Linked DNA regions of Homo sapiens. The protein of the gene in region 1 purifies or fractionates together with the protein of each later gene. This does not show direct contact. Each region holds a gene or a part of one and is shown in the gene's direction. Other genes may lie near its edges.

Region 1 (4,320 bases):
TTCCATGGATTCTGTGACCATCTTCCTCTCCTCATTGACTCTGCCAGAAGGGGATTCCTGGTGGGGCAAGGGTAGCTGGTGGGAAATGAGCTACCAGGAAATTAGCAAAGGGTCTTCTGGCCATCTGGGGACAGTTCTCATGTGGTCCCCAGCCCAGTCTCGAGGCTTCTGGGCCGGTCACCCTGCAGCCTCGGTGCTGCGCCTCTGGATCCAGCCTCCGCAGGAAGAACCCTGGGAGACCCAGCAAAACGGGGTGCCTGGTCTGACAAACGTCCCCCCGTTCCTCTGGCTCTGCGGCTCAGGAATAGGCCGAGACATCATGTCCAGGCAGTGCCAGGCCACCTCACTGCCCCCTTTAAGGTTGAGCGCAGAGGGCTTTTGGGGGCGAGCATGAAGCTGGGCACCCAGAGCCTGAGGCCGACTGTCCCTCCCTGTGTCCTGGAGTGGGGGCCTTGACCCGAGAAGACCCCCAGGGGATGGCCTGTGGGTGCTGATGTGGGGAGGGGAGGTCTGTGGACTGAGGGGGGTCATTGGCAGGGGACATTGATCACCGCGGCTCAGGGTTCTGCTCAGTGGGGTCAGTGGGAACGTGGTCAGTGAAGGCCTGGTCAGTGGGGGCCTGGTCAGTGGGGGTCTGGCTGGCAGAAGCCTGGCCAGGTGGCAGCTAGGTGACTTCAGGCAGGGTTTGTCCTTGGAGCCTCCTTGCCGCCATCTGTAGTGGGAACGAGTCATGGCACTCCGGAGGGCTGCTGGGAAGAGGAGGTGAGCAGGTGTGTGGAATCCAGCCCTGCCAAACAGATCTAGCACTTTACAGCCTAGATGAGTCCCCTGCTAGGGAGGGGACCTGCCCTTTGCCTTTTGCCCCCAACCCTCAACCTTCTGCCCCCTATCTTCCATCTGCAATCCCAGGAATGCCCTGGATGGGGAGGTCTGAGTTTAGGGAGCACCTGTGGATGCTCTGATGATGGCCATGGGTCCCGAGGGGGGAGAGAGTGACAAGGGTGACCCAGTGTCCTGGGTGCACATATGAGTGGGGCAGCTGGGCCTAGCCAGAGCAGTGACAAACGCATGCACACATGTGTTCACCCACATACACGTGCATGCTCACATGCACAAACACTGCACACACGCACGTTGACACTTCAAGGGGTGGAGGGTGCTGACTCTGGTCCCGGCTGACCCAGGCAGGGGCCCATTGTGATGGGTGTCATGACCTCACAATGTCACTGGTGCTGAGCACTCGCCCACCTGTCCGCTTGCCGTCTCTATGTCTGGAGCTCTTAGAGATAAGACATAGAGGTGTCTGGTTCTGAGAAAAGGAAGTTTTGCTAAGTGAGAGACACAACTGACTCAACTGACTCAGGTGAGTGTGACCTGCTCTGTTCCTTCCCTGCTGACCTGGGTACAGTCATTACCTGGTGGGCAGGGCTAGCCTCTGGGCAGGTGCCGAGGAGGGTCATCCCTGAGCACTCACCAGGTGCCTGTTCTGCACTGACCTGGTGGACTCTGTGGGGTGGGTGCTGTCCCCGAATGTACCCATTCCACAAGTGAGATGTCTAGGGTCAGAGAGGAGGTGACTGGCCAAGAGACCCAGATGTGATCCTGGGCTGTGCTCTCAGCCCTGCCCTGTGCATGCCCTGGTCTCTATGGCCCTAGATTCCAAATCTGCCCAGGGTTTTCTGGCCCCTGATGGGGCAGAGTCTGGCCCTGAAAGAGCTACTGGGATGGAACTCCTATGGGTGTGGTGGAGGGAGGTGGTGCTCGGTCCAAGTCTGTGCCCTAAGCTGGGTGTCCGCAGGAGGAGGTCTCACCAACTCAGACTTCACGTGCGGTCACTGAGGGTCTCCGTGGGACCCACTGGACACATGGGGTCCCTTGTCTGGGAGTAGGGAGCCCTCTGCCTGTGGGCAGTTGTGGTAGAGGACCTTGAACACTGCTGCTCTGGGGCCTGGGCAGGGAGGACTTGGACAGTGGGGACCTGGTCAGGAAGGCCTGGTCACTGGGGGACTGGTCAGCGAGGACATGGTCAGTGGGGAATTGGTCATCAGGGGCCTGGTCAGCAGAGGCTTGGCCACTGGGGCTTAGTCAGTGAAAAACTGGTCAGTGGGGACATGGTCAGTTGGAGCCTGGTCATCAGGGGCCTGATCAGTGAGGACCTAGTCAGAAGGCCTGGTCACTGGGAAAACGGTCAGTGAAAGCCTGGCCGGCAGGGGTCTGGTTAGTGGGGGCCTGGCCAGATGGTTGCTTGGTGACCTCAGGCACGGGGTTTGTCCTTAGAGCCTCCTTGCCTCCGTCCATAGCAGAAATGAGTCATGGCACCCTGGAAGGCTACTGGGAGGAGGAGGTGAAAAAATGTGTGGAATCCGACCTTGCCACTCACACCCAGCATTTTACAGTCTAGCTGAGTTCCCCCTAATGAGGGGCCCTGTCCTGTGCCCTCTAACCCCTAGCCCCCATCTGCATCTTCAGGACTGCCCCGTGTGGGGAGTTCTGAGGTTGGGGAGGACCCATGGATGCTCTGATGCTTGCCACAGGCCTCAAGGGAAGGTGACGCTGATTAAGACTTGATGAGCACTTGGGTGCACATGTAAGTGGGACAGCCAGCCCTGGCCAGAGACGCTACTCGTGCACACACATGTTCACCCACATAAACATACATGCTCACCTGCACAAACACATTTTGACACCTTAGGGGCTGGAGGACACCGACTCTGGGCCCTCTTGACCTGGGCAATGGCCCATTATGATGGGTGCCATGACCTCAAAATGTCACTGGTGCTGAGTGACCGCCCACCTGCCCACCCACTCACCTCTGTGTTGTGCAGCACTTGCACATAAGACGCACACAGGTGTCTGGTTCTGTGGTGCATGAACGACTTTTCTAAGCGAGAGACACAGCAGCCTGAGCAGACTCAGGTGAGTGACCTCTGGGCAGATGCCGACGAGGGTCACCCCTGAGCACTCACCGGGTACATGTTCTGCACTGACGGCGTGGACCATCCTCTCCTTTGTCCTCACAGAGACTCTGTGGCGATGGGTGCTGTCCCCAAATGTAGCCATTCCACAGGTGAGATGTGTAGAGTCAGAGAGGCGGTGACTGGCCCAGAGACCCAGATGTGACCCGGGCCGTGCACTCAGCCCTACCCTTTGCCATGCTGGACTTGAGCTTTGACCGCTGAGGCCTCTCTACCCTAGATTCCAAATCTTCCTTGAGTTCTGGAATTCAATGAGGCAGGGTCTGGTCCTGGAAGAGCCACTGGGACAGAGCCCCTGTGGGTGGGGTGGAGGGTGAAATTCTTGGTCCAAGTCTGTGCCCTAAGCTTGGTCCCCACAGGAGGAGGTCACTGATGGTTGCTGTGGGACCCACTGGACACATGGGGTCCTTCATCTAGGAGTGGGGTGGGGAGCCCTCTGCCCTCAGGCAGTTGTGGAAAATGAAGGAGCCCTGGAGGGCTGCCTGGAGGGTGACAATCGTCTCTCCTGGTCAAAGAGGCTTGGGGACTGGAACCCTCCTGCAGCGTCCCATTCTCTCTGTCTGGTCCTCTAGAGGCCTTGCCTTCCGTTTGCCCCGAGTATTCCTGGGGGGGACGGTTCCCCCAGGTGTTCTCTAGGACTAAGGCCCCAGCGTTCTCTTGTTCTTTCTTGGTGACCCAGGAAAACAAAGTCCCCTCCTGTATTGACAGCTGGGAATTGTGGTGTCCACCGTCCTCGACCTGCGACGGGGTCTCCATGAGCACAGAGGCTGCTCTGGAGTCAACAGATCATCTTTTCCCCAAACCAAACTGCTTGGCTGGCGTTGTTCCTGAAGGGGCTTCACTGGCCAGAGTGAGTGAGAATTGGGGTAGAACGGAGCAGTCACCAGATGTCTTGCTTCCTACGGAAAACTGATTATCTTCCTGGTCCCTGAACCATCCTATAGAGACATCCAGTCCCTGACTCCACCTGCCTCCAGGTGCCCAGAACAGCCCATCGTGGGGACTTCACCCTCAGCAAGTGGACGCCGTTTGTCCTGCCAGGGCAGGTGTGTGTCTGCCTTGGGGTGTTCGGGGACAATAGGCCTCTCTGTTCAGGTCCCCGTGTGCTCAAATCCTCAAGAAGGAGCCCACCACTGGTTGGAGGTCAGGACTTCAGAGATCCAGTCAGGGGTGGGGCCACTGAGTCTGGCCCCTTGTCATCTGGGAGGGGTAGTGGAATGGGGCTCACCAGACTGGAGTGTGTCTGGGAGTGCAGTGCGTGTGGTTTGGCTGTTCTCTGGAGCTCTTGGGTGCGGGAGAGCCTTGGGATGACTTTGTCTTGCAGGATGGAGATGGATGAGGACCC
Region 2 (3,369 bases), on another chromosome or scaffold:
CGATAAACAGAACCAGTCTTCTTGAAGAATAGTTGATTCTAAGATTGGGAAAGAGAAAATACAAGATGAGCCTGGAGTACTTTATTATGCTGAAGGTATAAAAGTGCTTAAAAAAAAAAAACTGCAGGAGTCAACCTGAAGGAGTTCCCAATAGTCAGAATGAAAGCAATTTGAGCAAAATTAAAAATTATTAAGTACTGGATTATAACCTGTAAAATATGGTAAATGCCCACAAGTCCATGCTAATGTAAATAAACAACTGAATACATAAATAAATGCAGGAGAGAAGGTAGCTCTTCCTTACAGAAGAATTGTAATTAATAAGTATAGAAGGAATAAAGGAAATACAAAATTACCATCAGGCAAACACTACAGTAATAATTTTTGCAGGCAAGATCCACTGAAAGATACTAAATCAGTAAGGAAACTTGACAGACACCACCTTAATCAAGTGATCAAGGTTAACATTATCAGTAATAAGACATCTCAACACTATGTAACTCCCTGATATGACGCACTGAGAAGGTTATACCATCACTTCTGTGGTATTCTTGCCAGAAATGCATAACTTCAATCTAATCATAACTAAACCAGGGATTAACTCAAATTGAGAGACATTCTACAAAACAACTGACCTGTACTCATATCAAAAGTGTGAGGTCCTGAAAGACAAGGAAACAAAGAAACTCAGGCTGGGCATGGTGGCTCATGCCTATAATCCCAGCACTTTGGGAGGCAGAGGCAGGAAGATCACTTGAGTCCAAGAGTTTGAGACCAGCCTGGGCAACATGGCAAAACCCCATCTCTACAAAAAATTAGCCAGGTGTGGTGGCACTTGCCTGTAGTCCCAGCTACTTGAGAGGCTGAGGCGGGAGGATCACTTGAACCCGGGAGGTCGAGGCTGCAGTGACGGGGATTGTGCCACTGCACTCCAGCCTGGGTGACAGAGCAAGAACCTGTCTCAAAAAAAAAAAAAAAGAAAAAAGAAAAAAAGAATGAGAAACTCATACAGATTAGAAGAGACTAAGGAGACACAACAAATAAATGCAATGTAGAATCATTGAAGGGAAAAAAATATTAGTTGAAAAGCTGAGATCCCGCCACTGCACTCCAGCCTGGGCCACAGAGCGAGACTCCGTCTCAAAAAAAAAAAAAAAAAAAAAAAAAAAAAAGAAAAGCTGATAAAATTTGAATAAGCCCTGTAGTTTAGTTAATAATAGTGAAGCCATGTTAATTTCCTGGGTTTGGTCATTGTGCTCTGGTTATGCAAGTTGTTAACATTAGAGGAGACTGAGTGAAAGGTATGCATGAACTCTCTGTACTAATTTTGTAAATTTTCTGTAAGTCTAAAATTATTCATAATATGCAAAAATTAAACAAAAAATAAAATAAAATAAGCACATGGAATGAGACTGTCCCCTGGGTCTCTGTAGAAACCAGGTCAAACATCCCAAATGCTCTTTTACCCCCATTCTGAGTTGGGCCAGAATGGTCAGAATAATGGTTCCCAATGTACCTTGATAAACACGGAAACTCTCAGGACCGAGTCCTAAGGTTCTCTGATTCAATAGGTTTGGAGTGGACTTGAGAACTGATCTTTTTAATAAGGGCCTCAGTCTGTGGAACTATTGGCCTCATGTGCCCTGTGGATAATCTTGGCTGTTGGTTCATTTTTCTTAACTGAAAACAGTGGCAGAAACTATGGGGATTTTTAAATCTCTAGGCTAGAACATTAACTTTTTAAAAATTCAGAATAGTATTTTATTTGCCTCAAGCCTGTGAATGGGGATCCCACAAATCACCCCCCACTGAAGACAATGCCCATAACAAGGTAACCTACCCATGAGCTTCTGAGGGATTTAGGAATTGTCTACCATCTCCTCTCTAAGAAGGGCTCCCACAATATATCCCCTTCTGCTTGCTTCTAACTCCCTATCACCTGCTAAAGAAGGACCTCACCTTTTAATCACTTTCATTGCCAAGGGGCACAAGGAGCCCCAAACTCTGTCACCTAGGAAGAGCTTGACCTCATGGTTTCCACACTGTGTGCTTTTATGTCCCTGCTCCAGGAGATGATGGACATTGTCAAAGCCATCTATGACATGATGGGGAAATACACATATCCTGTGCTCAAAGAGGACACTCCAAGGCAGCATGTGGACGTCTTCTTCCAGGTAAGTGCACACACCCTGCACATGAGCTGTAAGCCCAGCCTAGATCAAGTCAACCCACGAGCATCTGAGCAAATGATTTGTGTCCAACCCTGTACTAAGCATGGTTGGTAACAGAAAAGAATTATAAGATACATTGTCCTCAAGAAACAGATGATCTCCTTAAGCTGCAAGTGTACATGACAGAAGAGAACAAGAAAGTATATTATTAAACGCTAGTGGTATAGTATGAACTCTAAATCCATAAAAATTTGGGGATCAGGGTAAACACGAAAGACTTCATTAATTACAACTGTGGAGGTGTTAAGCATTTGTGTCTGGGAAGTAAGGGGAAATAAGATTGGAAACTAGGATAGGGCCAGATTATGAGACCTTTAAATGGAAGAGTTTGGCCTTGCTCTGGTACAGGATGGGCAGCTAGTGCTGATCCTTGACTAAGGGAGTGGTATAATCATTGGGGCATTTTAGGAAAAAATTAATCTAGCGGTGGAGTATCAGAGAATATCAAGAGTTCACTCTAGTTCAACCTCCCACTTTGCAGATGGGAAAAGAGAGTCCTCTCTGGCCTTGTGCAAGTTTGTACAGCAAGTAACAGGCCAGAATCAGAACCTCTTTTGCCCAGTGTTCTGCCAGATGGACAGGGTAGCAGGGAGTCTACAGAAGAAGCAGAATAAGCCAGCAGTGAGGTGATGAGTGTCCAGAGCAAGTCTTTTGATTTAAGGAAGCTCATGGGGCTCAAAGTGTTGTAATCAGGACCTAATTGGAGTTGTCTGGCCAGTGAAAGACAACTCTCATTCTCAGGGCAAAGTTGGTTAATGAAATGAATGAAATGAGCTCCAGCTCGTTACTCTGAGCTCCAGCAAGAAAGCAGGGGAGTAAGCTTTGGAATGGAGATCACCAGATTCTGTAAAGTGCTTTCTGTTATGTCTTTCAGAAAATGGACAAAAATAAAGATGGCATCGTAACTTTAGATGAATTTCTTGAATCATGTCAGGAGGTAAGGAGAGATCTCAGGGCACAATAACTCTACATCTGGGAAAGGAAACCTGGGGCCTGGGGACCTGCAGAAGGAAGGTGATGAGAAACCTGCACATACCTGCAACCCCTCCCATCAGAGCCAACAACACCAGCAACAACTGTGAAGTCCACAGTTCCACTCCTCAACCTGACCTGCAGTTGGTCTTGGCTAAGCACAAGA

Evidence for each region.
Region 2: the proteins of TBC1D28 (region 1) and KCNIP1 purify together in Homo sapiens (affinity purification with mass spectrometry; one large-scale study listed by BioGRID and IntAct). This does not show direct contact.

Annotation. Positions count from the first base shown.
Region 1 is NC_000017.11:18,641,333-18,645,652, reverse strand, and holds the start of TBC1D28 (TBC1 domain family member 28), read left to right. Parts: upstream 1-1,261; 5' UTR 1,262-1,363; intron 1,364-1,369; exon of another isoform or gene 1,370-2,916; intron 2,917-3,020; exon of another isoform or gene 3,021-3,067; intron 3,068-3,654; 5' UTR 3,655-3,729; coding exon of another isoform or gene 3,730-3,825; exon of another isoform or gene 3,826-3,874; intron 3,875-3,919; coding exon of another isoform or gene 3,920-4,021; intron 4,022-4,299; 5' UTR 4,300-4,300; coding exon 4,301-4,320.
Region 2 is NC_000005.10:170,730,731-170,734,099, forward strand, and holds part of KCNIP1 (A-type potassium channel modulatory protein KCNIP1), read left to right. Parts: intron 1-2,069; coding exon 2,070-2,174; intron 2,175-3,105; coding exon 3,106-3,168; intron 3,169-3,369. UniProt on the Homo sapiens protein: Regulatory subunit of Kv4/D (Shal)-type voltage-gated rapidly inactivating A-type potassium channels. Regulates channel density, inactivation kinetics and rate of recovery from inactivation in a calcium-dependent and isoform-specific manner.